4 linked regions of the Homo sapiens genome follow. The protein of the gene in region 2 interacts with the protein of the main gene of each other region in a pairwise test. Each region holds a gene or a part of one and is shown on either strand. Other genes may lie near its edges.

Region 1 (7,975 bases), on a different chromosome or scaffold from region 2:
CCACCATGCCCGGCTAATCTTTGTATTTTCAGTAGAGATGGGGTTTCACCATGTTGGCCAGGCTGGTCTCGAACTCCTGATCTCGGGTGATCCACCCACCTTGGCCTCCCAGAGTACTGGGATTACAGGCGTGAGCCACTGCGCCTGGCCTCAGCTGACTTTACTAACAGGGTCTCCCGGGTGCTTTTGCAGAGCACTGCTGGTTGCATTCACTGGACATTTTTTTTTTTTTGAGACAGGGTCTTGCTCTGTTGCCCAGGCTGGGGTGCAGTGGTGTGACTGTAGCTCACTGCAGCCTCAAACTCCTGGGCTCAAGCAATCTTTTGCACCTCAGCATTCTAAGTAGCTGGGACCATAGGCACCCAGTACCATGCCTGGCTAATTTTTAAATTTTTTGAAGGGAAGGGGGTCTCCCTATGTTGCCCAGGCTGGTCTTCAACTCCTGGCTTCAAGTGATCCTTCTACCTTGGCCTCCCAAAGTGCTGGGATTACAGGCGTGAGCTTCTGAGCCCAGCCAGGCCTCACTGGACTTCTAAAAGTTGGACGGTAGGCCGGGCGCGGTGGCTCACGCCTGTAATCCCAGCACTCTGGGAGGCCGACGCGGGCGGATCACGGGGTCAGGAGATAGAGACCATCCTGGCTAACACAGTGAAACCCCGTCTCTACTAAAAATACAAAAAATTAGCTGGACGTGGTGGCGGGCGCCTGTAGTCCCAGCTACCCCGGAGGCTGAGGCGGGAGAATGGCGTGAACCCGGGAGGCGAAGCTTGCCGTGAGCCCAGATCGCACCACTGCAGTCCAGCCTGGGCGACGGAGCGAGACTCCGTCTCAAAAAAAAATAAAAAAAGTGTGATGGTAAACCTTGTGCATCAGATGTTCTAGTTCGTCCTCCAGAAGGCAGAAACTTAGAGTCATGCAAACTAGGTCAATTTGCAAGTTCATATGGACCAAGAAGAATCAGGGACAAAACTCCATGAAGACAGGTTTGGCTCTGACGTCACGCTGCATGAACAGCACGCTTCGCCCACGGTGGAGCAGGCACGACTGCTGACGGCCGGCTTCTGATGGAACGTTTCAAGGGTGAGGAGCTCCAGGGAGTGTCTATCATGGCGTAGAACACACGGTTCCCACATCCTTATTAGAATAGAAGGCACATAAATACCTTTCAAGGAAATCTGTTGTGACTGGCGAGGCTTCAGGCACCAGTCCCTCGGGTGATCCAGATAGAAACCCCAAAGCCAAAAGCTCTGCACGCTCCCAGCTCACCTCCAGCAGGAGGGACACAGGGGCTTGCTTGGGGTCGCCAAACAGGCTCACCGGGTGGTCTTGCCCCCACCGCGTCTCTAGCCTGAGGCCCGGTCACTCCTGGAAAGGGCGTTCCTTCTCGTCACACTGTTGGTGGCAGCTTCATCCAGCGTGCTTTCATCTGATCCTCTGAGGGGGGAGGGCAGACAGAACTTTCCACAACATGAGAAAAGGCAATCTTCACATCAGAGGAGAGCCTGTCTCCAGTGTACAACGTTTCGTCTCCAGGCTTCACGTAAACAAGCCAGAAAAAACGGCCTGGCTCCTCCCAAGTGACCTGGAATTCCAACTGTCCATACCTTTCCCTGAGTCCCTAGAAATGCAGCCACGCTGGGAGCCGACCCCCCTCAGGGTGTCTGCAGGCCCGGGCCTGGCTAGAGGCTCCAGGGCCACTCCAGTGTGTGACTGGAGAGGTGGTGTACCCGAGGCGAGGGGCCCAGGGGGCAGGGGAGGGGACAGGGGGTGCACCTGGGTACCAACGCAGGTCCAGGAAATTTCGCCAGGCAGGGACCCTCCGTCAGCGCCGCTTCTCCAGCAGCATTTTTCCTTTTACTCTTTTTATTTTATTTTTTAAATTTTTTATTATTATTATTTTTAAGATGGAGTCTTGCTCTGTCGCCCAGGCTGGAGTGCAGTCGCGCGATCTTGGCTCACTGCAACCTCCGCCTCCCGGGTTCAAGAGATTCTACTGCCTCAGCCTCCTGAGTAGCTGGGATTACAGGCGCACGCCGCCACATCCGGCTAATTTTTGTATTTTTAGCAGAGACGGGGGGTTTCTCCATGTTGTCCAGACTGATCTCGAACTCCTGGCCTCACGTGATCCACCCTCCTCGGCCTCCCAAAGTGCTGGGATTACAGGTGTGAGCCACTGCACCCGGCCAGTTTTAAATTTTTTTAAAGCAAAGGAGTCTCACTATGTTGCCCAGGCTGCTTAAACCCCTCGCTTCAACTGACCCTCCAGCCTTGGCTTCCCAAAGTGCTGGGATTACAGGCATGAGCCACTGTGCCCAGCCCTCCCATAGCATTTGGCCAAGGCTTTGCACCTAGAGGTGTCTAATATGTTTGCTGATTTGATTTCGTTGGATGCAGATCAGCCTAATGATGCGAGGCTGTTGGTGGCCCAGCTCTCCTCTGCCCCTGCAAAGAGCTGCTGGCCAGTCTTGGTTCTGTCCTCATTCAGGCCTTTAGTGACCACCTGCAGGGTTTTACCAGCATTATGGGTTGACTCATGTGTCTCCTTAATTAACGTTGAAGTCCTAGCCCTCAAGACCTCAGAATGTGACCGTTGTTTGGAAACAGGATGCTTGCAGATGTCACTGGTTAAGATGAGGCAATACCCAACTATAACTGGTGTCCTTATACAAGGGGGTGATGTGAACAGTGACAAAGGCTGGGAGAACACCATGGAGATGAAGGCCGAGATCGTGGCGATGCTGCTAGGGCCAAGGACACCAGGATTGCTGGCGGCACCAGAAGCTGGGGAGAGGCTTGCGACAGACGCTCCTCAGAGCCTCAGGAGGAACCTGCCCTGCTGAAACCCGGATCCCAGATTTCAGCCTCCAGAGCTCTGGGACGGACCGTCTTTTTTTTTTTTTTTTTTTTGAGACGGAGTCTTGCTCCATCCCCAGGCTGTAGTGCAGTGGTGTGATGTCAGTTCACTGCAACCTCCACCTCCTGGGTTCAAGCAATTCTCCTGCCTCAGCCTCCCGAGTAGCTGGGACTAGAGGCGCCTGCCACCACACCCAGCTAATTTTTGTATTTTTTTTTCCCGAGACAGAGTCTCGCTCTGTCGCCCAGGCTGGAGTGCAGTGGCGCGATCTTGGCTCACTGCAAGCTCTGCCTCCCAGGTTCACGCCATTCTCCTGCCTCAGCCTCCCAAGTAGCTGGGACTATAGGCGCCTGCCACCATGCCCAGAAAATTTTTTGTATTTTTTAGTAGAGATGGGGTTTCACCGTGTTAGCCAGATGGTCTCGATCTCCTGACCTCGTGATCCACCTGCCTTGGCCTCCCAAAGTGTTGGGATTACAGGCGTAAGCCAACGCGCTTGGCCTTTTTTTTTGAGATGGAGTCTTGCTCTGTCACCCAGGCTGGAGTGCAGTGGCACGATCTCGGCTCACTGCAAGCTCCACCTCCCGGGTTCACGCCATTCTCCTGCTTCAGCCTCCTGAGTAGCTGGGACTACAGGCGCCCGCCACCACGCCCGGCTAATTTTTTTTTTTTTTTTTTGTATTTTTAGTAGAGACGGGGTTTCACTGTGTTAGCCAGGATGGTCTCAATCTCCTGACCTCGTGATCCACCCGCCTCGGCTTCTCAAAGTGCTGGGATTACAGGCATGAGCCACCGTGCCCGGCCTAATTTTTGTATTTTTTAGTAGAGAAGGGGTTTCACCTTGTTGGTCAGGCTGGTCTCGAACACCTGACCTCAGGTGATCCACCTGCCTCGGCCTCCCAAAGTGCTGGGATTACAGGGTTGAGCCACCACGCCTGGCCAACCATCTGTTTTTTAAGCCACTCAGTCTGTGGTCTGTGAAGACAGCCCCGGCAGACTCATCCATCCAGCTTCAAGTGCTGCAGTGCTCCTAGCACAATCGATCGCTGTCCCTGACAACAAAGACCTCCCTGGTCAACTCTGTGTCTGTGTCCCATCCCATCCACTTGCTCATGTCCTGTAGTCCAAGCCCTACTTTGGACCTCCACTGGGGCTGTTGCAAAAGTAAAGGCAGCCAGCAATGAAGAGCCTGTTGGAACACGAGTTTTAAAAATTCCCTTGGCTGGGCGCAGTGGCTCACGTCTGTAATCCCAGCACTTTGGGAGGCCGAGGCGGGCGGATCACAAGGCCAGGAGTTTGAGACCAGCCTGGCCAATATGGTGAAACCCCGTCTCTACTAAAAATACAAAAATTAGCCAGACGTGGTGGTGCATGCCCCTGTAGTCCCAGCTACTCGAGAAGGTGAGGCAAAATAATTACTTGAACCCGGGACGCAGAGGTTGCAGTGAACCGAGGTTGCGCCAATGTAGTCCAGCTTGGGCGACAGAGTGAGACTCTGACTCAAACAAACAAACAAAAAAATTCCCTTGGCTGTGCTTCTAGAGGTAAGATCACAGGGGCCGGGGCAGAGAGAGCACACCACCCAGGGTGTGATGGTCCCTGAACGTGGAGAGCAAACTGGACACCACCTTAAGTGTGAGTATGTGTGTCAAACCTGGAATGCAGAGACACTATGCAGGGTGAACCCATGAGTGTGTAGGGAATACCCTGTCCCCTGCAGGTGTGTGAGGCAGGGGAGCCAGGCACGTGGAGGAAAAGTCGCAGGACTGACTGAGCAGGAGCCTGAGGCACTGAGATCCCAGCCAAGGATGCCTGCGGGGTTTCTGAGCAGGAAGCAGCACCATCAGAGTCATTTTTTTTTTTTTTTTTTTTTTTTTTGAGACAGAGTCTTGCTCTGTCGCCCAGGCTGGAGTGCAGTGGCACGATCTCGGCTCACTGCAACCTCCGCCTCCCGGGTTCACGCCATTCTCCTGCCCCAGCCTCCCAAGTAGCTGGGACTATAGGCGCCCGCCATCACGCCCGGCTAATTTTTTGTATATTTAGTAGAGACGGGGTTTCACCGTGTTAGCCAGGATGGTCTCGATCTCCTGACCTCATGATCCGCCTGCCTAGGCCATCAGAGTAGTTTTGGGAAAACCACTGAGAGTGAGGCAAGCCACGCTGGAAGGTGAAAACTGACAGGTAGGGAGATGGAGGGGCTAAGGCCTGTTTCACCACAGCACGGTGGACCTGTGCTTCTGCAGATGTGGAGGGGGTGGCCGCCCCTCACTTTCCAGGAGGTAGAGAGCAAAAGCCCTTCCAATGACCTTGGTACCTACTGTGCCCTTGATCTCGCGTTCCTAGCTATCTCATGGGTTCTGCACCGGTGCCTCCTCCTGCCCTCGGTAAGGCACCTTCTAGGTCCAGCTGTGGGGCAGGGAGCGACAGGCAGGAATGATCTGACCCCTTTGGCCGGGCACGGTGACAGATGGGCTGAAAGATGAGTCACTAAACATGATCTGGGGTGCGGGGCGGGGGTGCAGCTCAGTTTCAGCCCCTCGCGCCGGGGAGGATGACCGTGCAGCTTTATATAGCCCCTGAGCCCTATATAAGCAAGTCAGAGGCCGGGGCTCGTCCGACAGGAGCCCTCAAGCTGATCTGGTCGGGACCGGATACATTATTAACCCCAGTGCAGTAGGGTCCCCAGGGGCAACCTGCCCCACAGCGCCCAAGATGCCTAGCAGAACTGCCCGCTATGCCCGCTACAGCCCACGGCAGCGGCGGCGGCGGATGCTGGCTGATCGCAGCGTGCGTTTCCCTAATGATGTCCTGTTCTTGGACCACATCCGGCAGGGTGACCTGGAGCAGGTGGGGCGCTTCATCCGGACTCGGAAAGTCTCCCTGGCCACCATCCACCCCTCAGGTGAGCAAAGCCTGGAAGAGCTGGCCAGGGCCTGTGGGGTGGTGGGAGAGGCCAGCAAGGAGGACCTGACCTGGGGCTCAGTCTTGACCCCTCCCGTCCTCCCTGCCCAGGCCTGGCCGCCTTGCATGAAGCCGTGCTCTCTGGAAACCTGGAATGCGTGAAGCTGCTGGTCAAATACGGGGCTGACATTCACCAGCGAGATGAGGCGGGCTGGACACCCCTGCACATTGCCTGCAGCGATGGGTACCCTGACATAGCCAGGTGAGGGGGCCCTGGGTCTACACAGGCTTGAACCCGACCCCTCCGGGCCTCAGTGGGTCCCCAGGATGGGAGCCCCAAAATGTAGCCCGGGTGGTGTCGGCAAGAACCCTAGAGGCTGGGGGCGGTGGCTCACGCCTGCGCCTGTAATCCCAGCACTTTGGGAGGCCGAGGTGGGCGGATCACCTGAGGTCAGGAGTTCGTGACAAGAACCCTCTCACTACTAAAAATACAAAATTAGCCACGCGTGGTGGCGCGCGCCTGTAATCCCAGCTACTCAAGGCTGAGGCAGGAGAATCACTTGAACCCGGGAAGTGGAGGTTGCCGTGAGTCGAGATCATGCCATTGCACTCCAGCCTGGGTGATAAGAGCGAAATTCTGTCTCAAAAAACAAAAAAAACAAAAAAAGAACCCTGCAAACCCTAGAGGCTTCTGGAATCCTGTTTCTGCCTTTGTCCTCAATAGAACCAACTTGAAAAGCTGGCCACAGCTTCCAAAGGGTCAGGTTTCTTCCTCCTCACCCTACCCGGACCTTAGGACCCCAAGGTGGGGGACACACAGGTGACCCCAGGACTCTGGCCCTCTGACCCGGGTTGGGGCGAGCACTCTCCTGGCTCCTCCCCGCTTCAGCCAGAGCGACCTTTACACCCCAGGTACCTTATCTCCCTGGGAGCGGACAGGGATGCAACCAACGACGATGGCGACCTGCCCTCCGACCTCATCGACCCGGACTACAAGGAGCTGGTGGAGCTCTTCAAAGGGACCACGATGGACTGAGCCAGCTTTGCCCGCCCGCCCCCGCGCCCAGGGCCGCCTCCCTGGAGAAGCCGCGCGTCGCCCATGGGCCAGCACGTGCCCCACCCGTGGGCCAGGGGCGGCCGGACCCGTCCCTCCACGACCCCGCCACCCCTCCTAGGCCTGGCTTTGTCCCCAGGTGAATTTTTTACTGTGACACTTTTTACTTTTTCAATAAACGTGACTCCCAGGTGAGGGGGCCTGGGTCTACACACGTGGTCCCTGTGGTGGTGTCCTGATTACTGGGCTCTGGCCGCTCCCAGTGGCCGGCGGCGCTCACCGTTCGGGCCAGGGAGGTCCGGAGCTTCCGCCACGAGCCCCAACCCCGCACGGGAATCCCGGCCGCCCCCGCCCTCCGCCAGCCGGGCGGTCACGTGAGAGCGCGCTGCGCCTGCGCCTGTGCAGCCCGCGGTGGCGTCACTTCCGGCGGGGCCTCCCAGCTGGAAGAGGCGGTGGCGGCGGGTCGGGGCGAGGTGAGGCGGGTGCGGCGCCGGGCGGCGGGGACGGGGCGGGGCGGGGCGGGCGCGGCTGGGCCCCGCCCTGGTGTCGCCGCGCGGCCGCGGGTGCCCTGCAGGGCCGGGCGGGGCCGGGCGCGGGGGAGTGGCCGGGCAGCCGGGGTCCGAGGGAGGGGCCCGCGTTCCCCGCCCGGCACCTGCAGGAGGGCGCGGCCCGCGGGGCGCCTGGGAGCGCGCGTGGGGAGGGCGCGGCTCGGACTGAGCGCCTTTCCCGCCCAGGCAGGGGCAGGTGCCGGGGACCCAGCGCCGCCGGACGCTCGCAGCGGGCCAGCCTTCTGCCGCCGTCGGGGCTTTGGGGCTGACAGAGCCCCGCTTTCCCGGTCTCCTGGAGGGACCGTGCCTGAGGATGCCTCCGATTCTCGGAGCGCCGCGGGCCCGGCCGTCCGCATTCTTTTTCTGTCCATTTTTCGGCCTTGCCCTCTTTCCCGTCTCCCCGGGCGGTGATGCTGGGCCTAACGGGGAGAACGGGGCCTCCGCCTGCCTTCTAGGCACTCACTGGGCGGTGGTTGTGACCGCGGGGGCGGGAGCCATACGGGGCACGGGCTGTGCTTCTCTCCCTCCTGCCCCTGGGTAGCCGTCGCAGGAAGGTGGTCTTTCAGCTGGATCCCCAAGGATGAGTAGGATAGTTTTGGGCAGAGAAGACAGCTTGAC
Region 2 (8,022 bases):
AGATTTAAATAATAATTAATAAATATTCTATTTAACCAGTGTTTCCTATATAAAAGACCTATTGGTGTTGGATGTAACTCTGATGAATATATTTCACAGCTCACAAATAGTTTGGCTTTAGTTTTAACAGACATATGCTATTAATTTTAATGTGGTCTTATATATTATGAGAAGCTACTCATTTTATAACTACATAAAAAAAGTAATGCTTTCCTTGTCTTATCTACCAAAACCCAATTGAAACAGAGACATAAAAACCAGTTAGGGCCAGGTGCGGTGGCTCATGCCTGTAATCCCAGCACTTTGGGAGGCCGAGGTGGGAGGATTGCTTGAGCCCAGGAGTTCGAGACCAGCCTGACACAGCGAGACCCTGTCTCTACTAAAAATAAAAAAAAATAGCCGGGCATGGTGGCACATGCCTATGGTCTCAGCTACTACGGAGGCTGAGGCAGAAGGATTGCTTGAGCCTGAGATGTCAAAGCTGCAGTTAGCTGTGAATGAGCCACTGTATTCCAGCCTGAGTGAGGCTCTGTCTCAAAAAAAGAAAAAAAATTAAGCCATTTAGCGGTAAACCTCCAACTGAAAAGGTGAATTATATGTGATTTGGATATACTACAGGAGAAACAGAGCAACAAGAAACAAAACATTTACAGTACACTGTTTCATTTGAAACAAATATTCACATATTGTATACTTTCCCTCATCAAACAGTTATTTCCTGGTATCCATTTCAGTGAGCAGGATGGGGGGAGGGGGGAGCAATAAAAGAGAAACATTCTTACCTGTGTAGATGACTTGCTTTTATTGTAACAAAGGCAACTGGCCCTGTAATCTAATTACAAGAAAAAAAGGCCACAGATAAACTCTTCAACAATTAAATAGTCATTACTTGTGGTAGCTGTTCACCTAGCTTTAATTGCCTTATAGTTAACAGTTCTAAATAGCCAGTTAACTCCTTCAATTACTAGACATTTATTTTTCAATCACTTTATCTTGAAAGATACGGATGTACTATGGAGTTAGCTTAAGACAAACTGAGAGAGAGAGAAGAGAGAGTTGGTTGGGGCCACCGGGGAGGTTACTGACCAAGGGCAGGGAAGGAGGCATTTATTTATATTTGCCTTATAATTCTGGGGGACTAAACTGGCTGAGGACATGCCTTATGGCTTAGCTATAATTTTGGCTATTCTCATATGTATAATGAAATGAAACCAAAACTAAATCTTAAGAACAAATCTTGGCCCTGCCTGGCTGTACCACCTAGGCCTGGCTCTGTATTGAGAGAGGTGGCCTCCTAATGATGCATATATGTCCTTGTCTGGTTTTCCAATTTTCTTGAATTGAGCTGACTATAAAAGCTTAATGCATGCGATATAAAGAATGGCTGACCTCCAGATACAACTAGTAAAATTTCAACTTACCACTACTTAAGACTTATTAAACACTTGATTGAGAAGAATCATATTTATGGAAGGACAGCCCAATGAATGTTGATTCATTCATTTAAAAGTCATCTTGGATTAAGCCAGAGCAGCAAAAAACTATATATCACCCCCTCCACATTTTGCTACCTAAACTTACTCACTTTCACACCAGATTGGCTACTGGCTAATACTGACAGGCATATAAGAAAAACATCCCTATGAAAGTCTTTGCTGCGTTTACTAACCGGAGTCACCAGGCTGCTGTTTACTGTGTTCCGAAATGCCTTCTCTAAGGACTATCCATAGAGACAGCTCTCTGGTCTCAATTCAGAGATGGTTGGGTTCCTCTGAGCACTGGTTTGCCTTTATCTGATAGGCACAGACATTATCTATTAGTAAAAATAAAATAATAATTTTATTAAGACCCCTAAATCATGATGCCCAAACCCCTTGCAATCAGGAAGTCTAGATAAATAACAGGAGTTTCCCTTCATAGAGATTTCTGGAATTACCCAAGGATATTAACATGCATGACCCAGATGCCTCCCTAAGCCTTATGGTGTGCTGGCAAATGTTTAACAACCATTATTCAGAAATAAGACAGGAAAACTGCCATCTATGACTGGTAAGATTATAGGTGATTTTTGTATTTTTTTTCTTCATTTTCCCAACTTCCTTCAGGAAACACATTTTACTCTGAAGGGGGTGAGGGTGGTGGCTAATACTTGGGATTATGGTGAGCTGCCCTAGAAACTATCGGGTTATTAAGTAACACTTAATATATGTACCAGTTTCACTTCAAAATCTGAAGCATTCTGAACTCTTAATTATTTTGGAGGGATATCCCACAGAAAAGTTGGCTGAGGCCCTAGTGATAAAGCTCTTTCTTACAGTGGCCCATTCCTGCCCAAGACTCCAGGCACTGGAAAACCTGGTGGGGGTGGAGAAGGTAACATCAGCAGGCAAGTACTCGGAACCACTCTCCTATCTCCTACCTCTTCTTCTCACGACCTCCAAAACTCTGCTGAGACCGGCCTCCCTCTGCCTCACTTGTGGTGATTTTCTCTCGGATGCTCACTTTCTCTCTGTGCAATCTTTCCTTTGGGTGTCCCTTGTCTTTAAACATGTCTGCGTATACCTGAACTCTAATTGTGGACAGGGTTCAAAGTTCTTTTTCATGGGATTCATGGGCCCCATGAAAATTAGAGGCTAAGTAGGCATCTAAGTAGGAGCATTTACGTGCTCCCAGGCATTCTGTTACACTTAAAGAGGCTCATGGAAGAGATTTGGGCAAGTGGTATAACTCTACAAGCTGCTATATTCAAGTCCTAGTTCCAGCTTAGCCAAAACACCTACTCCGATTGCAACTGATCTTTTTCTTGGTTGCTAGAAAACTGAGAGTCATATGTGTGGCCTACCTCCAGCAAACCAATAGGACCTTACACCATGCATTTTGCATACAAAACTGCTGGCTTAATCTTATCTTTCACACTCACGGTTTTCTTTTGTCCTATTTTTCTCTGTACTTATTTTTAATTTACCCTGATGTACACATTTATGTAAACTACGTTAAATCCTTTCCTCTGGAATAAAGTAGGGTGTAAATAAATTTAACAAAACAACAAAGAGTGATGATGAGCCAGGTCTTCACTCCTGAAGGCCTCAAAACGAACTGGCAGTGATCTGTGAAAACTACAGAGAACTGCCCGTTCATCTCCACAGATTACTGAAGTCTGTGAAAACTACTCCAGCCAGGACCACCATTATAGCCTGCTGCCTGTTGTGTTCACAATCGATGCACAAACTCAACCCTGAAATGGAGAGAAAAATAGGGGAAAAAAGACATTAGGAAATCCTAGCTCTATGTCATCTGGACATTAGAAAGCACTTGGTTGGACAAAGCTTTTTCTCCCCCACAGCACATGCCTGTTTCAGCATCTCAGCCCACATTCACGGAGAGGGAGAATATAGCAATTGTTAAGAATGCAGACTCTAGCACTGCATGCTCTGCTGTTTATTTGTGTTATTTGGGCTAGGTTTTTTAACCGTCTGTGCCTCGGTGAATCCCATCTACAAAGTAGAGATAATAATAGTACCTACCTCACAGGGCAGTTGTAAGGATTAAATGAGGTAACCCGGGTGTAACATTTAAAACAGTGGCAGAGTACATACAGGGATCTGAACAAATGTTAGCTACTATTAGTGATATGTGAGTGGGGGAAGCACACTGCCTTGGACTTGAGGCAATATCAAGTCTGAGTTTCTGGAAAAACACTTGTGGAATAAGTAAGGGCTGGCCACCTCCTAAAACCGGACAAAAGATCTGGCTTGCCTAGATCCTTAGCGTGACTGCTTCTCCTCCTGCCTTTCTAGAGGCAGTATTACGTGATGGAAATACTTGGTGGGTGCTGTGGGCACAAAGATAAGTTAATGTGTTTTTATTCCCTAGGAGCTGAGTCGAGAGTAGGAGAAAAATGCATAAATAATTACCAGGTAGGATGATTAAGCAATATACTGGAGGCAGCAACAGAAACACACCGTGGAAAAAAAATACCCACGGCGTGGATGAAGATATGAGATGTGTGAAAGCGCTAGACACAGGCAGCCACCTGCACCCATGTAAAATTGGATTATTGCTGACTCCTACAAGGCCCACTTTAACGCTTCTTTCAACCAGAATCCCTGCAGAACTAATTTTGTAGAACCGCCGGGGATAAAGACCTTTATTTGCAATGTCGAACTCCAGCAGAGTAACCCCTTTTGCTTTCCACACGCGCAAACCCGGGTCCCAAACGCTGCAGTTCGCGTTTCCCGGCTAACGGAAGAAACACGAGGAACTGTTTGCAGATCTAGGGGATGAAGCCAAAAAACGGAAAGCGAGGCCGAAAGGGCGCAACCACCACGTCTGGAGGAGGCCAGTGAAGTAGAGAAAGGGGAAGGTCAGCCCTGCCCCAGCGCGCTCTGCGTAACCGGGACTTCCTCCGCGCGGCAAAGCCGGGGAACCTCCCTGGCGCCTGCGCCACCGTGGCGAGACTCGGCGCCGTGGACGTGGAGAGAGGGCGACGCACCTGCGCGAAGACGGCAGCGGGAGAAGCCGCTCCAGTGCGGTTGCGCGGCGGCCCAGGCGTCGAGGGGAGCCTCGGCGGGGAGCGCACCGCGCGCCTGCGCGGAGAGCTGCGTGACGCGGCGGCGCGCAAGGGACGTGCGGAGTGAGTGGCGCTGCGGGTGGGGCCGTCGGCGGCGCTGGTGAGCTTTGCGGAGCTGGGCGGTGCCGAGGAGGAGGAGGTGGCGGCCTGGGTCTGACGCGGCCCTGTTCGAGGGGGCCTCTCTTGTTTATTTATTTATTTTCCGTGGGTGCCTCCGAGTGTGCGCGCGCTCTCGCTACCCGGCGGGGAGGGGGTGGGGGGAGGGCCCGGGAAAAGGGGGAGTTGGAGCCGGGGTCGAAACGCCGCGTGACTTGTAGGTGAGAGAACGCCGAGCCGTCGCCGCAGCCTCCGCCGCCGAGAAGCCCTTGTTCCCGCTGCTGGGAAGGAGAGTCTGTGCCGACAAGATGGCGGACGGGGAGCTGAACGTGGACAGCCTCATCACCCGGCTGCTGGAGGGTGAGTGCGCGCCTGGCCGCGGGACAGAGGGAGGTCGGGCACCGCCGCCGACCCCTGCGTCCCCGTCTGCCGCCGGAACGCGAGGGGACCCCTTTCCCGCCCCGAGACGAGTCTCTGGGAGCGCGGCGCGGCGGACGAACCGAGGAGGGGGCGAGGAGGCTCTGGGCGCGGGGGAGCGGCCTCTGGGAGCGCGGTCAGGGGAGATCGGGGGAGAGGGGGCCGTTCCCGCGGACCCTCGGGGGCCAGGCCCGCCGGCCGAAGGCTGTGCGGAGCGGGTCTGCGGGAGACAGCCTTTCGGAAAGGCCGCCGGGCTCCGCGCGCCGTGGTGCTCGCCTCCGGTGACCCGAGGATGGGGAGAGGATGCCTGCCACTGGGCTTTGTGCGTCCGTGGAATCACTGTTCTTCTCTGTTCTCTTTGTGCATTGCCCTTGGCTGCCTCCGATTGTCGTTCCGGGAGTGAATTTTACGTATATATATATAAACCTGTCCTTAACAGGACTGCTTCGTCTGCTCTGCATTTTTACACAATGCTATATAGAATGGATTCTTCTTAAAGAGAGGATAAAATTAGCGGGAATTAATCTACCGTTTGTTACTTGGCCTAAAAAAATTGTAAGACAAGATATTTGATCAGGTTGAAGATGCACCTAAGAAATGTGATGTATGTAGATGGGTTTGCTGAAGGGATTGGCTTTTGCATTTGATTTGAGCAGAGCTTAATTTCTGCACAAACTTAGTGAAAATCTATTTTTAAAGCCTGTCTTGTATTCGAAAGGTATTTGTAGGTCTACGCAGCATTTGAACTTTCCGGGCTCAAGTGTTCTTATTGAATAGTTTTATGTTGGTGGGAAGGCAAGGGGGGAAAACGAAGAGGTGGACTAGCCGGGAGTTAAATGTATTGATTCATTGCAGGATATTATTCAAAGTTAAATGCAGTCTTCTGCCAAACAGTCCCTCTACCCTAAAGTTTTCGTCATCAATAATTGTTTTGTGAGTGTGTAGAAAAGCCTTTAATCCTTTTTAAACAATTTAGAGGCCTCTTTGTTAGCCGCCGTCCAGCGATTGCATATGTACTGTTTGCTTTCAAATTACCTTAAGATAATTGCTAGAGTGAAGCAGTATGTACTTATATTTGGAAAATCATCAAAGAATATTGTAATGGGGGAGGGGTAATTCCTTTTTCTCAAAGTATGTGTCGGTATCTCAAACCCAAGTTCTGTGAGTACCTGTTCTGTAACTAAATACTGTGTATTTGCTCCAGATGTGAAAGCCATCCAGCAGTCTTAAGACTGAATAGGAAGCAAAAGTTTTACCAGGAACTCTTATTTACCTTTTCCTTTACTATCAAGTTATTCCTGGGAGGCCCCCTGGTGCCTGCAGTCAGTGTTCACTACCTAAGACTTTGTTTCAGATGTGAACATCTTGCTGGGTCTTTGAGAAATTTGCTTTGAAAATAATTGTATTTTGTAACTGTTTTATGAGGGAAATACAGTTAATTTAAAAATGTGTATGTCTTGTTTACATTTGGGAAGTAGAGGCCTACTCCTTTTTATTTTTTTTTTATTTTTATTTTTTGAGACGGAGTCTCACTCTGTCGCCCAGGCTGGAGTGCAATGGCACGGTCTCAGCTCACTGCAACCTCCGCCTCCCGGGTTCGAGCGATTCTTCCGCCTCAGCCTCCTGAGTAGCTGGGATTACAGGCACCCCGCCATCATGCCCGGCTAATTTTTTTTGTATTTTTGTAGAGACGGAGGTTTCACCATCTTGGCCTGGCTGGTCTTGAACTCCTGACCTCGTGATCCACCCGCTTCAGCCTCCCAAAGGGCTGGGATTACAGGCGTGAGCCATCGCGCCCGGCATATTTTTATATATTTTAAACTTTGCTTGTAAATTTAAATATTTTAAAAATATGTTTGTATCTCAATTTATTTATATTTTATTTCATTTTCCATATATTTTGTAGGCATAAAACAGATTTATGTTTTAAAATGTTTGTATCCTTTTAAATTAGACGCACCTTTATATGATTACAGGTACTTAAACTTCACGAGTGGGTTGTGCAAGGTTACTAGAAAAGACACTGGGGGAAAAATAAGTGATTCCATTTGTTTTTGTGAATTCAAATTAAATATTTGGTTTGTACAATCTGTTTTCCTTTTTTGGGGGGGCGGGGGGGGGGCGGGTAAGAATTGTAGTCCAGATACGTTTCTCTCTTAATTTAGCAAGCGTTAACAAGTTGACCTCCTCCTTGCCAGGCACCAGCAATCCTAAGATAAGACACAGTCTCTTCACTCAAGGAGCTCCCAGTCTAAACAAGTGTCTTTCAGGCTTTTTCAGCCTCCTCTCTGTCCTATGTTCAGCACACATTCTATCAGTACTTCTTCATCCTACAGAAGCATATTTAGTTTGACAGTGCCCCCAAGGGATTCTTAAATATTCTAGGTTTTTCAGCTCCTTCCCAGATCCAGACCTGTTGAAAGACTTGTCCAGAGCAGACTTGAATTTTCTAGTAAATAATTATTTTTAATCTTCAAAGAAAATTTTGTCCACCTGGATTTTCAGTGATATTAGATGCTAGTTAGTGATATTTTGTAAAGCTGCCTAGCAAGAATAACTATGGTTAGTGTTTTTAGTGTCAAATGAACGTGTAAGTAAAAATTTGGCAAGAATTTCTCTGCATTAGGGGAAAACATTCAGCAGGACCTGATCTCATTTTAAAATGCTGATTGTAGCCCCACAACATATTCCTGATTGTTTTTTCTTTTTTACTGTATTAAATCGCAGATCAGCTATACACACTTCTGGTGACTACATTTTATGAGTTGCTTTTTGTTTTTCTTTTTTAGGTGGGCGTATTATTGATAAGTTTTTTTTGTTTTTTGTTTTTTTGAGACGGAGTTTTGCGCTTGTCACCCAGGCTGGAGTGCGGTGGGGTGATGTTGGCTCACTGCAACCTCTGCCCCTGCAGGTCCAAGCGATTATTCTGCCTCAGCTTC
Region 3 (8,030 bases), on a different chromosome or scaffold from region 2:
ATTAGTGTTTTAAGTTTTCCAAATCTATATTTCATCCTTCTCTTACCATTGTCATTCACCATTTCTTTGCCTCTTCCTTACATACAAAGAAATTAACTTGTCTAATCGTCCTTTGCTGCTAAGACTTAATTTTCCTTCCTAGGTATCTTGAAAGTCTGCCTTTCATTATTTTTGCCTAATAGGGGCTTTTTCCATCAGCAGGAATGAAAGCAGTCAATAAAAGTCAATTGCTGACTCTATGAATATATGGAGGGTTTACCATAATGCATATTGGAAATGTTTTGAAACCTTTATCCTGAATGGAAGGTGCCATGGCTTGTGTTTTATGGCCTTCTAATGTTAGACAGCAATCTCATTTAGCATTTTCCCAAAGTGAAAACAGTGCATTAGGGCAGTATAACAAGCTTTACAGATCAATACAGAGGCAAACCTTTACCCTTACAGATTAATCCAAGAAAATGTCCCAGAGTCTACTCCTGGAGCTGGAGGACAATTATGCTGATTTCCATTCCTCTTCCCCTCTTTCTACCATCAAATCATTAATACAGATTGAAGTGTGTACAAAAAGAATTTCAGAGGATGACTGCACACACACACACACACACACACACACACACACACACACACACAGAACAGATCACCAAACAGGAAATCAAGAGCCCTGGAAGTGAGTAGTATTGATTTGTGGTGATAAAAGTATATTTTGACACATTTCAAATCATAAATAACGCATGGACTTTAACTTGCATGACTAATAGCTCAACCCAGGATACATGCTTATCTACAACTTAAACTACCTCTTTCTAAGGAGTCCATAACATGAGGTGAATTATCCCATCGTGAGTAGACTTTTTAAAGGAAAAAATAAACTGTCTTCTTTATGACATGCAGTGTGTGGATGCTCATTTTTACAGTCTTTTCCCGTATGTTAATGAGGAAGGGCTGCATATCTGGTCAGGGTTGTTCTAGCCTTCCCTCCTCACCTCCTTCCCCCTGCTTTTAAATCTGAGACACATTGGAGACACGATCAGTTGTCAACACTAGGATAGAATGTAACCTTGCTTTCCTATGAGCTATTAGTCATTAGTCATGTATTTGCTAGGTTCAGCTGATCTGATGCTTAATCATATTTTATTCGATATTTATCTAGATGCAGGTCTTGCTATAATTAGTCACTTAGTGGTATCTGTGCCTATACTCTTTGAAGCACGGCTGATTCCTTTTAAATCCTGATGTTCGTGGTAAAGGATTAGGGAAATCTGTGTCCAGAAAAATTCACAGACATCTGAAGTTTGAAATCTTAAAGCATGGAAACTCCTGGGATTCTATTTAATTCTGTTCTTAGGTATTTGACAAAGCAGTAAGGTAATGAATGAAAAAGTAAAAGTGATGTTATAGAAAAATTGTTGAAACATTTTTTTTTCTCTGTATGTCTGTGTTCTTTAGAGGATAGTAGGAAGTCAGGGAACCACCAACATGCTTTGCATTTCTATTCTAGTAAAATATATATTAGCTTAGTGTACTGGATAAAAATAATGAGACAAATCATCACCCAGGCGTTTCCTTATTGATGAGAAATATTCCCCCTGTGTTCTCTAGGGGTTTTGTTTGAACCCATTAAATTTAAAATAATGTGATTTCAAGATTACTATGGAAATAACAAATTTAAATTTCAAAAATAGAAGTGATAAGACTGGAAGCTTCTTGTATTAAGACTAATTTGAAAAAACACGAATTTCAAGATTAAAAGTAGTAATATTGTGCTTTTTTTCTCTGTATGTATTTAATCCTTGCAGTCCAAACTTCCCTGCCGTATTAATCAGAATATTTTACCTTCATTCGTATAACTCATTTGGTTCATTATCATTTTTCAAGCATATATTATAAGGTTTTTGGAAACATTTACATTTGGTCTCACATATTCACAGAAGCAATCTGACTAAAATCTGAGATTTGTAAGTATAAGTAGCAAAATTTTAACCCAGGGGACTTTAAAATGTTTTCTTTGCACCGATTTGTATTCATTCAGTAAATGTATTACATGACTTCTGTAGGGTTCCGATGTCTAATAGCTGAGGTAACAAAGAAAATAAGTCACAGTCCTTGGAATTTACATTCTAGTAAATGTAGGTTGCTAAATTGTATTAGACTATGGTGTAGTCAGTGTCACATGCATGGCAAGAAAAGTGAATACGGGACCAATGGGGTCACCATAAAGGGAATGATAGACTGTACCAGGGTTGGGGGGTGGAGAGCTAATGAAAGCTGACACTTGAGTGAAGTATCAAAGGATGAGTAGGTTTTTTCCAGATATAGAGGCATAGGTGGGAGTTTGGGCGTAGAGCATTTCCAGAAGCAAGAGCAGCATGAGCTTAGACTTGAAGAGAAGTGTAAGAACGAAACCCTGAATTGGGTTTGTCCAGGCTTCAGCTGTGTGCAGGGTTGGGGGGTGAAGGCCACAGAGTAGGCAGGAACCTGGTCAAGAAGGACCAGCCAGCTGGCCTTGTATTTTGTGTAGAAAGTGCTGGGAAAAGAGACCATCTTCGATTTCCTATGGGAAAGAACCCTCTGGAAGGTGTGTGCAGGCAGGAGTAGAGGGTGTCAAAGCTGAGAGACCAGCTGGGAGGTTGTTTCTTGAATTCAGGATGTGGCTCACTTGGAAGCAATGTAACGACAGTGAGTGTGGAGCAGGAGGACCAGGCCGTAGGGATCTCCAACTTTGTGACCAAGTGGATATGGGAATGGAAGAGAGAACTTAGGGCTTCCAAGTTTCTGGCATGTTGATATGGTTTCGGTTTGGAAGGGATGGTTATATTGTCCAGACTAACTCACAGTAGTGTCAATTAGTGGAACTAATTTCTTAGAATTTATTTACCCTTTGTCATTTTTATCATGGGAAAAATTTAGCTATCTTTGAAGTTTAAGGAAAATTCTTTCTCTTAAACCTTTTTCTACATTTGCAACATCTGTGTCTTACTGTGCGTTTTATGTGTTCTTTAACCTTGATTTTTATTCTGAATGAAGACCATTGGTCTCAGCGGTCCCTGTGTTTGTTTTCAGGCGATATGAGTCTCATCCAGTCTGTGCTGATCTGCAGGCCAAAATTCTTCAGTGTTACCGTGAGAACACCCACCAGACCCTCAAATGCTCCGCTCTGGCCACCCAGTATATGCACTGTGTCAATCATGCCAAACAGGTAGGTGTGCCAGCCAGGCCACTGGGGGCACTGGGCAAATTGAAAACTGGATGACCTGGGGCAGTGGTAAGGACTAAATGGGCCACTGTGTGTGAAAAAGCTTTCTAAGCCCTAGTCATCATCATCAAGAATTACTGTAATGAGTTGATTAGGGCATAACTTGTGTCCGATCATTGTCAAAGAGCCCATATCTTCCTTATGTACAACTCATTTACTTGCAGAAAAAAGGATTCTACTACAATTATACTTTTTTCCACTTGCCCTGAACTTTTGTCTTCTAATAATAATGTTCCCAAGGTCATTCCTCATACTTTTAGGCCAATATTTAGAGCTAGCGAAGAGGATACAGATTAAGAGCTGGCACCTTTGGGCCCATAAGCCGTAGGTAGGCAGAGGGCCAGGTTAAAAAAAAAACAAAACACCACCGTTCAGTCACTGTCCAACGCTTCCACCAGTTGATAGAGTTCACTTAGTTGGACAGGGAAAGGGAAACCAGAGATAGCATTTTAAAAAGAATTTCCACTGCTTTTATAGACCATAGCCATATTCTTCTCTTGACCCTTCATATCAGAACAATATGATGTTCACAGGACGTGCATTTTCTCTAATTTATGTACTTTAGAAAGCTAATGATAAACCCTGAAGCAAATTATCAATTCTGGCAGGTCACATAATTGCCTATCATTTAACCAATTTAACAGTTGGATATGGTTGTTCTGAGAGGCAGAAATTGTTGGAAACGTTGATTCCTTCTGCTGACAAACTCCATAGATTTGACCTTCTAACCCAACTAAATCTAGTGTTTAAGTTACACAGCATGCCTTTCTGCAGTCTAATTTGATGTAGTTATAATAATATCACTTGGTGTAAAATTTTTATACTCTACAAATATCCGACGGGAGGGTTAGTATTATCTGGATAGCTGGAAAATAAAGTAACATTAGTGGAAAGAATATAATCAAGATTTATTAAAAGCCTATGTTGTCCTCAAAAGCCTAGTGGCTGGCAGCTTTTTTCTGTTTCTTGCTTGTAGCTGCACTTGTATAACTCTTAGTAGTATGCCAGGGATCCTTTTCATTAAAGGTCTTTGGTACAGGTAATGTTGCTAATGTTAAGTTAGTACGTTTTATTTGTCGAAAACAGCTTCTGATATGCTGTTAATAAACCCCAGCCTTCAATATGAATATGAACTGAAGGACTTGAGACTCGTAGGTTGATTCATGGATTTTTCTAACTTGATAATAGTGCCTTATTGAGCTGGTGGTCAGTGGAAAAGAGTGGTTGTGACAAAGTGTATGTTTCAATGCTGGTCTCTAACATACGTGCCTGTTTGTACCATGTGATTTGTAACATTACCACAGTGGCAGCTGCAGGGGCATTGGGAGTGCTGACCCCATCCTGCCTGTCTGGGTTGTGTTGAATTATCTACATATAGTCTTGTGACATCAATGGTATATATTTATAGGATAAAGCAAAGTTAACTTGTGACAAAAGCAAATACGCCACATGGCGCGATAGTGAGTTTGAATCTGGCAGACCTGGGTTTGTACCCTGTCCTTTTACCAGCTCTGTGACCTTGGGGCTTGAGTTTTCTCATCTGTAAATTGGGGTAATGTTGTGAGGATTACCTTTATATAAAGTATTCAGTAAATCTTATTTTTCCCCTTCTTTCCTCAGTTGCATTATTGTGCTGAAATTTACTAAACAGGTCAGCCAAAAGCATCAAATTATTATTAATGATTTCAAAAGAGACCCTCTTTTTTCCCCCTCACTCTCCAATCTTTTATGTTCAGCTAGTATGTTTGGAGTATCTATTGTTTTCGTGGCTCTTATATTCAGTTATTAGGAGGTGTATAATACAAGTTAATAATAAAAAGATAGAAGCCCTCAAACCTTTTTTCCTGAGATGGGCAACATTGAAATGGACGAGAACCAAGAACCTGCACCACCTTACATTTCGGCAGTAGTTAGGATTGCAAGGTCATTTCACATCCATTCTTTTACTTGTTTTTTTATGACAACCTGAGATGTAAATAGAGATGGTTTTATTTTCACCATTTTCCAGTTGAGAGCATTGAAACTCAGGGAAGTCACAATAGTGAATTTAACAGCTAGACCAAGATGTACCTTGCCATAAAAACAAAAAATTTCAAAATACATAAGTGGCATTTGGTTTTTGAGTGGGTAAGTTTGTGAAGGGGCATCCATCCATCATCCACTAATGCAGAAATAAGGCAGTAAGGGAAAGTGAGAGCGAAAGCGATAAAGGGAGGACACAGAATGTGGAAGATCTAATGAGCGGGGGACAGAGTCTGAAGGTCACACATGGGGAGTGGGTTGATGAAGCCCGTGATGAAAGGGGCAACTTGGCACTGGCCCATTTTAAGATCACGCCACAGTGGCCAGAAGGAGCTTCTATCAGTGTTTCATGAGCAGTTACTTTCCTTCCAATACCAGGTTGTCCTTTTGCTCCTTGTGAATTTAGGCTAACCTCATGACCCCAGCTGTGCCCCTGTTAAGAGACTCCGGCAAGATACGTAGTCCCGACTGCCTATTTTAGCAGTTCCTCATGGGCCAACTTCTTACATTTTCTTCTTATGTTTCCTGTTAAATCCAGAGAACAAGCTGGACATGCTAAACATGGAAAATACTATACATGACAACAAGCCATTAGGCAGTGTTGTCCATATCCGACACAGTGCAAGGGTTTCCCCCATGGAATAATTCCAATGGCTAAGTCCACTCCACTTTTAAATAACTCATAAGATTGGCCTTTCACGGGTTCCCTGGGGCATTGTTCTAGAGACTAATAGGTTTTACTGTTAGGAAAATTTCCGGATATTCCTTAGCCTTACTCTTCCTCTCTGCTTATTTATCCACTTATTCATATCAGTGTTTCTTCAGCTGTTCTTCAACAATTTCTCATGGGTTGACATGAGACATTTAGGCTATTATTTCTTGTGTATTAACTTATGTGCTCTTCATGAGGGTAAAGAGATATTAAATAGCTCTAATTATTATTTCTAAGACTTAAAAGCTACCAGCTGGCTGGCTGTATGAGATACAGCATTTACAAAGGAAGGAGCACATCGATTGATACATAGTCCTGTGTCTTTTGTTTCTCATATCTGCTTAGCCTCATAACTTTCTCAAGCTCAGCAAGATTGGATTACCTCTTCTTACCTTTGATACCTGGTTCCCATTCTATCTTGCTACACCTACCTAAGGTAGGAGAGGTGCTGCTTGTACCAAATAGGTCATGTCTCTTCCTCTGAGCGTGCCTATGAACAGGCATGCTTATGCACACCACCTACCTTACAGGAGAAATGGAAAGGAGCGGGAATGAGAAGCCAATAGTATTTGCTCATGGGTAGACCAAAATGTGCCCAAGTTCTGTTTTTTAAAAAAGGGGAAGGGTGTCGAAAGGGTTTGCTGTCAGATCTGCATTACGTCTGGGACCATTCCCTGGGACATACCACCTCTCTACTATTTACTTGTAGAATTGGGCTGCATTGGGAGTTGCTAGTCTAAGCATTTCAGCTTTTTCCCAGCCCTGCTGCTATTGACAGAAAAATGCAGAAGCTGGCTGGACCCTTCTGGCACATTTTGTGTTCACTGGGAGGGTGGGGTTTATAGGAAATACTGCTGCTGCAATCCTAATCTAATTATAGTGACTTGAGCTTCAGTTGCTTTGATAAACTGAAGGTTTGAACCAGGTGATCCATGAGGGCCATCTAGCTCTGTTATTCTAGGACTGATTCTGCTTTGAAGTATATAGAGCAAAAGATGGTGTGCATAAGCATGCCTGTTCATAGGCGCACTCAGATGAAGAGACATGGCCTATTTGGTACAAGCAGCACCTCTCCTTTTGAGACCTCCAGTATTTGTGCCTTCGCCTCTTAAATTTTGCTGTCCACCTTAAACGTTCACTCAAGAAGAACACTTGCATTTCTGATTGGTCTGCTGCTGCCTGGCCTCCCACTGCTACGTACCCTTTCTTTGAGGTTCACACTCCTGACAGCCCTGGGGAAGCCAAGGTGGCAGAAAGAACTGGGAGGGAATAGAAACAGTTTCACAGTTTCTCCAAAGTCAGTGAAGTGAAAAACAGCTGTCTCTGCACTGGCTGGCAGAATGTACCCTGCCGGCTAATAAAGGCCATTAGAAAATGCAGGCTCCCTCCAGCCAGCCGTAAGCCTCCCCTGGATCGTGATGCCTTTCATCCTGTGAAGTACCATGGGAAGTGTGACTCTGAAAACAGAGCAGGAAGCCAGGAACCTGGAGCCTGACAACCAAGGGCAAACTGGGACCAGAGGCAAGGACCAACCCCAGGAGATGCCCAAGGGACAGAGGTCAGTGTGGGACCTGCAGTTAGATGATGAGTCTGTCAGGGGTCCCCCAAACCATAGCAGAAGTTTCAGTCAGTAAGCAGGCAGTGGGACAGTAGCCACGCAAACAGTTAGTTCAGCTCACAATAAGGACGTCTTGTAAATGAGACAGCCCCACCTCAGACCTACATGCTTCCTGCTGATCTCTTTGGAGAGATCAGAAAGGAACCTGGCCACAGTGAGGAACTTGGGGTCAGGACCCAGTAAATGAGGCTAGATCCTAATGTGACAGCTCTCCAACTTAAGGCTAGTGCACCCCGTTGTCTCGTTTCTAAAATATCATTGACATCTCCAGTATTTGGTTGGCTTCCTAAGTCAAAGCCTCAAGATCAGTGCATATGGAGGAATTTGCCCTGGCACAATTTCTGTCCGCCTTCTGAAGGACAATTTCATCTCCCCGGTGAACTGTATTTATATTAGACCAGGATTCTGCTCCTAAGTCTGTGACA
Region 4 (8,426 bases), on a different chromosome or scaffold from region 2:
CATTGTTTAATCTACCCAATCAATGGCATTTTGTTGTGGAAGCCCAAGCTGACTAAGACTCTCAGCCACTCACTCTTATGTGTACACCTAGATCTGGTCATTACCTCTGGTAGGTGAGAAACCGAACTCTATAAAGGTTTGGTCTTTTTAAAAATCAGTATGCTCTATTGCCTCTCCCTCGATGTTCATGAAGACGACACAGGCCTAGATGAATTTGACCCAAATTCTAATTTAGAGCCCACTGTTTATTAGCTGTATGACATTAAGCAAACACCTGAAGCTTTAATTGTCTCATTGGAAAAGGGAAGATAATGTCCCCTACCTTGCAGGGTTATTTAAGCATTTAATTAGATTATGTATGATAAAAGCATAGCGTTGTTATTTTGTTTTTTTGAGATAGGGTCTCACTCTGTCACCCAGGCTGGAGTGCAGTGGCATGATCGCTGCTCACTGCAACCTCCACCTCCTGGGTTCAAGTGATTCTCATACCTCAGCCTCCTGATTAGCTGGGATTACAGGCATGAGCTGCCACACCTAGATAATTTTTGTATTTTTGGTAGAGACGGGGGTCTCACCACGTTGTCAAGGCTGGTCTTGAATTCCTGGCCTCAAGTGATCTGCCCGCCTCCCAAAGTACTGGAATTACAGGTGTGAGCCACTGTCCCTGGCTAGCATTGTTTTTATTATATTTTTCAAATATATGACAGCTATGAAATTATACCTGGCCAGGCACAGTGGCTCATGCTTGTAATCCCAAGACTTTGAGTGGCTAAGGCAGGAGGATAACTTGAGGCCAGGAGTTTGAGAGCAGCCCTGGCAACACAGTGAGACCCCATCTCTACAGAAAATACAAAAATTAGCCAAGTATGGTGGTGCATGCCTATAGTCCCAGATACTCAGGAGGCAGATATAGAGGTGGGAGGATTGCTTGAGCACAGGATTCTGAAGTTACAGTGAGCTATGAATGGCCATTGCACTGCAGCTTGGGTGACAGAGCAAAACCGGAAGGATGGAAGGAAGGAAGGCAGGAAGGAAAGAAGGAAAGAAGGAAGGAAGGAAGGAAGGAAGGAAGAAAGGAAATTATACCTTTTTTTGCTACCTTTTCACTCAAGAGACAGTATTGTTAGGTTGTTGTGAAAATTAGGTAAGGGAGTACATGCCAGGTGTTGGAAAACTACAGCCCACAGTCCGAGTAGCCTGCTGCCTGTTTTTTTGAACAAAGTTTTACTGGAGCACAATTACATCATTTGTTTAAATATTGTTTATGGCTGCTTTCCTGTTACAATTAGAGTTAAGTAGTTACAACAGAGAATGTATGTCATGCAAATTCTAAAATATTGACTATCTGGCTCTTTACAGAAAAATATTGTACACCCCTGATATAAGCAAGCATTTAAAACAGCCTTAGTATAAGCTCTCAATAAGCAATAATGTTTCTTCCTTGTAAGCTTACCTCAATTTGCTCAACAAATTATGGGCAACAGTTGCACACAGGAGAGCAAGTAGAAATAAATCACTTGCATTGTGAAGTCCAACAGTAAAACTCTAGATTACATAGTCCTACGTGTAAGTTCAGATTTCCCTGGGTGCCATAGCAGAGTTTTTATATTGGGCATAGGGCAGGGTTGAACTTCTATTGTATTTTCACATCACTGCTGATCCTGTGACCAGTGTATCTCACACCAAGCATAGCATATGTTCATCAGACTACAATCTATACAAGACACTTAACTAAACCCAAGATTCTCACAGCAAAACAGGCAGGACAAGCCTAAGAGTGAAACTAAATCACTCTCACGAAATATCACTGATGATATTCAAAAACTCAAATATGAAGATGAGACAGCTCCTAGGGCCACAAAGAGGTGGAAAAAAAAAAAAAAAACAAGAAGATGGTCTGAGAATTGGACTTTTATATCTTCAACATCCCACACTCCCATCTGTCCACAGCAAAATGCATAGAAAATATCCCCCTGACTGATGGTTTCTACAGTAAAAAAAGTGACATTGAGGTGAACCACCAGCTTCCCCTACCACCTTAAGTTTCCTGACAGGAGACCTTTCTCTGCTTCAACGCATGGGAAGCATCATGAATGCCTGAAAGGAAAAATATACCTGAGGACAGCCATAGATAAAGGAGGAGAGTGGGACTATTACCCCCAGCCCTAGAAACTCCATCTGAAATTCAGCCAAAAGAGATGCCAAATCAGGGTAGCTATTCAGCAGCAGTACATTGTAGGAGGAATAGTCCACAGGTCCCCTGGGCATGAACCACTAGCCAGCCTTCCCACACAGCTGGGATATCCCTTTTGGCACCTCCCCATTTGGGATGGGCAGTGCTCTGATCATTAACTGGAGCCAAGGAAAACCTAGGCTCAAAGCACAATCTAGTGTTAAAGAGAAAGCAGCAACCAGTGGGGGAAATAAAGAAATTCAGCAGGTAAATTCAAAGAACCTCTAAGCAAACATATCCAATAATAATCAAAACAAGCCAGAGAAAGAAGAGAGAAATAATCACTTAATGCAAAAATACAGATGTATATCCACAATAAACAACAGCAAATAGGGAACTATTACCTCCCTAAATGAACAAAGCAAGGAACCTGTGACTGAGCCTAATAGGATGGTGATACGGAATCTCTGACCAAGAATTCAAAATGACAATTTAAAGGAAACTCAGTATCTCCAAGATAACACATAAAAGCAACTTAGAAATTTATCAGAGAAATTTAACAAAGAGATTGAAATTTAAAGAAAAATTAGACAGAAATCTCATAACTGAAAAATACATTTGCTGAGCTGAACAATTTATTAGAAGTTCTCAACAGCAGAAAGGATCAAGCAGAGCAAAGAATCGGTGAGCTCAAGGACAGGTTATTTGAAAATACAGAGTTAGGGCCAGGCACAGTGGCTCATGCCCGTAATCCCTGCACTTTGGGAGGCTGAAGCTGGTGGATCACTTGAGTCCAGGAGCTTGAGACCAACCTGGGCAACATGGCAAAACTCTATCTTTACAAACACACACATACACACACACACACACACACACACACACACACACACACACACACACACACACATTATACATGTGTGGCTGGTGCCTGTAGTCCCAGCCACTCAGGAGGCTGAGCTGGGAGGATCACTTGAGCCTGGGAGGAAGAGGTAGCAATAAGTCCAGATCACTCCACTGTACTCCAGCCTGGGTAACAGAGTGAGAACCTGTCTCAAAAATAAATAAATAAATAAATAAATAAATAAATAAATAAAAGAAAAGGAAAAGAAAAACAAAATACAGCATCACCTTTGGGAGGCTGAGGTGGGTGGATTGCCTGAGGTCAGGAGTTCGAGGCCAGCCTGGGCAACATGGCAAAACCCAATCTCTACTAAAAATACAAAAAATTAGCCAGGTGTGGTGATGCATGCCTATAGTCCCAGTTACTCAGGAGGCTAAGCCACAGGAATCTCTTGAACCCAGGAGGCGGAGGTTGTGGTGAGCCAAGATTGCACCAGTACACTCCACCCTGGGTTACAGAGTGAGACTCTGTCTCCACCAAAAACAAAACAAAACACAACAACAACAATAACAAAAATATGGAGTCAAGAGAAAAAGGAAAAAAGAATGAAAGGAACAAAAATATAGAGAAAAATTGCCTAAAAAGACAAAAATCAAGAATTATGGATGTTCAAGTGGGAACTGAGCAAAAACAAGGGGTAGAAAACTTATTCAAAGAAATAATAAGAGAAAACTCTCCAAAACATGAGAAAGAAAAATACCTAGGTACAGGAAGGTCAGAGAACACCAAACAGATTCAACCCAAATAAGAGTACTTTAAAGGATATAATAATCAAATTCTCAAGTCAAGGACAAAGAGATACTCCTAAAAGCAACAAGAGAAAAGCAGCAAATGACATATAAAGAAGCTCCAATTCATCTGGCAACAAACTTCTCAACAGAAACCACACAGGCCAGAAGGGAGTAGGATGACATTTTGAAAGTGCTGAAAGAAAGTAACTGCCATCAAAGACTACTGTATCCAGCAAAGCTATCATTCAAACAGGAGGGATAAAGTCTTTCTCAGACGAACAAAAGCAGAGAGAATTCAACACCAAACCCATCCTATAAAAAATGCTAAACGGAATTCTTTTTTTTTTTTCTTTTGAGACAGAGACTCAGTCTGTCACCCAGGTTGGAGTGCAATGGCATGATCTCAGCTCACTGCAACCTCCACCTTCCAGGTTCAAGTAATTCTCCTGCCTCAGCCTCCCAAGTAGCTGAGATTACAGACACGCACCACCATGCCTAGCTAATTTTTGTATTTTAATAGAGACGAGGTTTCACCATGTTGGCCAGGCTGGTCTCAAACTCTTGACCTCAAGTGATCTGACCACCTCAGCCTCCCAAAGTGCTGGGATTACAGGTATGAGCCACCGTGCCACATCGGGAATTCTTCGATAAGAAAAACCACCATCACCACCGCCACCACCATGCAAAAAGAAAACATTTGAGGTATAAAACCCACTGTAAGTACACAGAAAAATCCAGAATGCCCTAATACTTGTAAAGGTGGTGTGAAACCCACTTATAACTCTAGTATAAAGCCTAAAAGACAAATCAAAAACTTTAATAGCTACAGTAATCGTCAAGAGTTAGGCAATATAAAAATATATTAATTGAGACAATATAAAGTCAAAATGTGGTGGGGGGATAAAGTTTGTTTCTATTGTGTTTTCGTGCTCTGTAAGTTTTCATCTCTTTACAACTTGTTACATCTATAAAGATGTTTTTTTTTGTAAGCCTCATGGTGTCCACAGTACAAAAGAACTATGAAAAAGGGCGTCGGATTTGCTCCACCCCCCCCACCCCCACCACACCCACCACCCCCCACCCACCACTCCCCGCGGAGCTCTAGGCCGGCATCTCTCCGCGAGCCGCGGGTCAAGTGCCGGCGGCTAATGGTGCGCGAGGAGCCGCCACCCATTCGGCGTTGGCTCTGGCGTCGGGGTCGTTGTGACAACCGCTCCAGTAGCCGTTTCCGAGGCAGCAGGTGCGGCCGCTTTAGCCCTGAGCGGGCTCTGCGGCTGCCTGCGAGTCTCTGCTGTGCCGACCCTTCTCTTCGCGGACCCCACGCCAAGCAGCGACCCTGAGGCGACAGCCGGAGCGCCCGGCAATGGCGGCCTCGACGGCCTCCCACCGGCCCATCAAGGGGATCTTGAAGAACAAGACCTCTACGACTTCCTCTATGGTGGCGTCGGCCGAACAGCCCCGCAGGAGTGTCGACGAGGAGCTGAGCAAAAAATCCCAGAAGTGGGATGAAATTAACATCTTGGCGACCTATCATCCAGCAGACAAAGGCTATGGTTTAATGAAAATAGATGAACCAAGCCCTCCTTACCATAGTATGATGGGTGATGATGAAGATGCGTGTAGGGACACCGAGACCACTGAAGCCATGGCGCCAGACATCCTAGCCAAGAAATTAGCTGCTGCTGAAGGCTTGGAGCCAAAGTACCGGATTCAGGAACAAGAAAGCAGTGGAGAGGAGGATAGTGACCTCTCACCTGAAGAACGAGAAAAAAAGCGACAATTTGAAATGAGAAGGAAGCTTCACTACAATGAAGGACTCAATATCAAACTAGCCAGACAATTAATTTCAAAAGACCTACATGATGATGATGAAGATGAAGAAATGTTAGAGACTGCAGATGGAGAAAGCATGAATACGGAAGAATCAAATCAAGGATCTACTCCAAGTGACCAACAGCAAAACAAATTACGAAGTTCATAGAAGAGATTTGTTCAACACTGCAATTGTTTGTTAGATATAAACCCTGTGACTATAATACATTGCTTCTTGTTCTCCACAATTCATGACTTAAGTACCAAAATGCATACCAGTTATTATATATTGCCAAGAATTAAATGATAAACTTAGAGACTAATTAGACTGAAAATGCCTAATTGATATATATATTCTTATGCCTAGTACTTTACCACAAATACAGTGTAATATCATCAGTCCAAAACTGCATTACTTTCATAAGAACACTGGTTAATTTGTATAAGATATTATAGAGCTTTTTATGCTTTAGAAGTTAAGCAATATCTTTGGGGGGGAACTAATTTATTTTCATCACTCGAAATGTGGTAGCTCTTACAAAGTTTGTTGATTTGTTTTTTTAAAAATCAAAAGCCAGTTGAACAACAGGATATATAGACTTATAAATATTCAAGCTGAATCGTATTTTAACACTTCTCTTCAACTTGATTTGTCTGTTTAATTGAAAAGAATTGTAAGAGTTACTGTTGCATTTTCTGACCTACTACCTTTAAAATTCCTGTTGAGTTTCTTTGTGTTTACAAGGAAAGGACTGAACTTTTTCTCATCAAAACTAGCTTTTTTCCCCACAAATAAATTATCAGGTTAAACTTTCACCAATGTCTGCTCTGTTTTTTGGCAGGGGGTTTGTTTGTTTTTGTTTTTTAATGTTTTTGGTACACTGGGCAGACTTCAGAGCAGTTTTTTAAAAAATAAATATTCTAATGTAGCTATCTCGCCATTCCCTTTAAATACCTGTCTTAACCTCCTGCTTTTATTTCCTACTCCTTTCCACACATACACACACAATCTTTTACCTTTTAAAGGATCATTAAGATTGTCACGACATTAGGAACTCTTTCTGTCACTCTTCTGTCATTTGCTGCTGTGTGGAAATTCTTATTTTGACCATCAATGCCTATGAATTCTTCTAATACATGAAGAAAATAGATTGAGTAGCAGCAGTACTATAGGCAGGAAATACAGTTTAACTGCTGAATTTCTATGCCTCTCGATTTACAGATTGCTAATTAAATTGCTATTATTAGTTTGGCTTAATTAGACTTAAGAAAACAACCGAGGGTTTTTTTTTGTTTTTTGAGGGTTTTCTTTGCATGAGAATTGTATGTAACCAGTGATATGATTATTCCTGAATGTACAGACAGAAGTAAGCCTGGACATTTTTTAATTTAAAAACTTTAAATAGTCCCTGCTTTAAGGGAATATGATAATGTATACTATGACAAATGTACTTTATTCCTCTAACGCAGTAAGAATTATGTGGAATATTTTCCTTAAACGAAGTGCAGGAAAGCCCTGTGTGTCTTGGTTTGGTTATGGTTTCATTTCTAGCCATACAATTGATGAATCGTATACAATTTTCGTTAGTACCAAAATAATCTGTTATATGAACAGACTTCTAAAATAATGTCTGTATAATATATATTTATATATATAAAATAAGGCTTTTATTGAACAGCTTATCTTCCACTTGCAGGTTTATAGAAATATCAGTATTTCAAAATAAATAAAAAGTGGGAGAATTCTTTGCTGTTAGAAGAATGTGGTTATTATTTTGATTTTTTTAAATGAGATATATAATCAAAGTACTGCTGAACTATAAGTGCAGTATTCTAAACATTTCATCTAGTAATACCACTGATTTAGAAACAAAACTGTTTATCTCTGGTTTCTGAATTTAGAATTTTGGGATTACCTGTTTAAATCTGTCTTGGGGGATGTAGAGATTAAGTCTGTACATATGTGTGCACATATATTCATGCAACCTCTGATTTTGGTTTTCTTGTTTCTGAGTTCTTAGAAAGTGTCCACATACTCTTTTTTGTAGAAGTAGCTGTTGTAGAGTGAAGAAAAGGATAAGACTTTAAACAGTTGATTCTTTTTGTGTTTTCTACAAACTATTTTTTGAAATTTAAATCACAAGCAAACTCATTTTCTGGTTTTTAGAAAGTAGATGATTTCAGAGGAGTAAGGCATGCCAAGCAGCATGCTCAGTGGGGTTTTAGGCTGTCACATGCAGCTGAGAAAAGGTATGTTCAAGTCATAAGTCGCTAATTGATAGGGTATGAACTAGTCAAAATATGAACCATTATGATTCAAGTTAGATTTTCCTCTGGAGAGACAGATCTGAATGTTCAGTTCTAGCCAAGGTAGATTTTACTTTCAACTTTTTAATCAGTATCACTTTCTGTGCTTAACTCTCTGGTGTTACCTTGTCCGTTTTCATTGGTCTAAAATTCTGAAGAGATGACTAAAATTTGACATAATGGTATAAATGGATTATTAAGGGTAACTTTCAGTTGAAGAGAAAAGCAAGATGCCATTTTCCCCATGACTTTGATTTTGTTTACATTTTTCCCTTTAAGTTAGTATACACTACGCATACGGTAATAAAATACAATAATATAAAAAAAAGAACTATGAAAGATACACTAAAAATAAAAAGTAACAAATTAAAACATACTACCAGAGAAAATCGCTTAACCACAAAGACAGTAAGAAAGGAAGAAAGGAGTTACAAAACAACCAGAAAACAAGCAACAGAATGTTTGCTTGTAGTACATCCTTACTTAATAACACTAAATGTAA

The links.
Region 1: the proteins of PPP1CB (region 2) and PPP1R27 interact in binary tests that used the Homo sapiens proteins (3 or more experiments, as listed by UniProt).
Region 3: the proteins of PPP1CB (region 2) and CHCHD3 interact in binary tests that used the Homo sapiens proteins (3 or more experiments, as listed by UniProt).
Region 4: the proteins of PPP1CB (region 2) and PPP1R2B interact in binary tests that used the Homo sapiens proteins (3 or more experiments, as listed by UniProt).

Annotation. Positions count from the first base shown.
Region 1 is NC_000017.11:81,832,545-81,840,519, reverse strand, and holds PPP1R27 (protein phosphatase 1 regulatory subunit 27), read left to right. Parts: upstream 1-5,469; 5' UTR 5,470-5,566; coding exon 5,567-5,756; intron 5,757-5,866; coding exon 5,867-6,017; intron 6,018-6,667; coding exon 6,668-6,791; 3' UTR 6,792-7,028; downstream 7,029-7,975. UniProt on the Homo sapiens protein: Inhibits phosphatase activity of protein phosphatase 1 (PP1) complexes.
Region 2 is NC_000002.12:28,747,151-28,755,172, forward strand, and holds the start of PPP1CB (serine/threonine-protein phosphatase PP1-beta catalytic subunit), read left to right. Parts: upstream 1-4,679; 5' UTR 4,680-4,974; coding exon 4,975-5,026; intron 5,027-8,022. UniProt on the Homo sapiens protein: Protein phosphatase that associates with over 200 regulatory proteins to form highly specific holoenzymes which dephosphorylate hundreds of biological targets.
Region 3 is NC_000007.14:132,791,608-132,799,637, reverse strand, and holds part of CHCHD3 (MICOS complex subunit MIC19), read left to right. Parts: intron 1-3,060; coding exon 3,061-3,196; intron 3,197-8,030. UniProt on the Homo sapiens protein: Component of the MICOS complex, a large protein complex of the mitochondrial inner membrane that plays crucial roles in the maintenance of crista junctions, inner membrane architecture, and formation of contact sites to the outer membrane.
Region 4 is NC_000005.10:156,845,395-156,853,820, forward strand, and holds PPP1R2B (protein phosphatase inhibitor 2 family member B), read left to right. Parts: upstream 1-4,900; 5' UTR 4,901-5,168; coding exon 5,169-5,786; 3' UTR 5,787-7,134; downstream 7,135-8,426. UniProt on the Homo sapiens protein: Inhibitor of protein-phosphatase 1.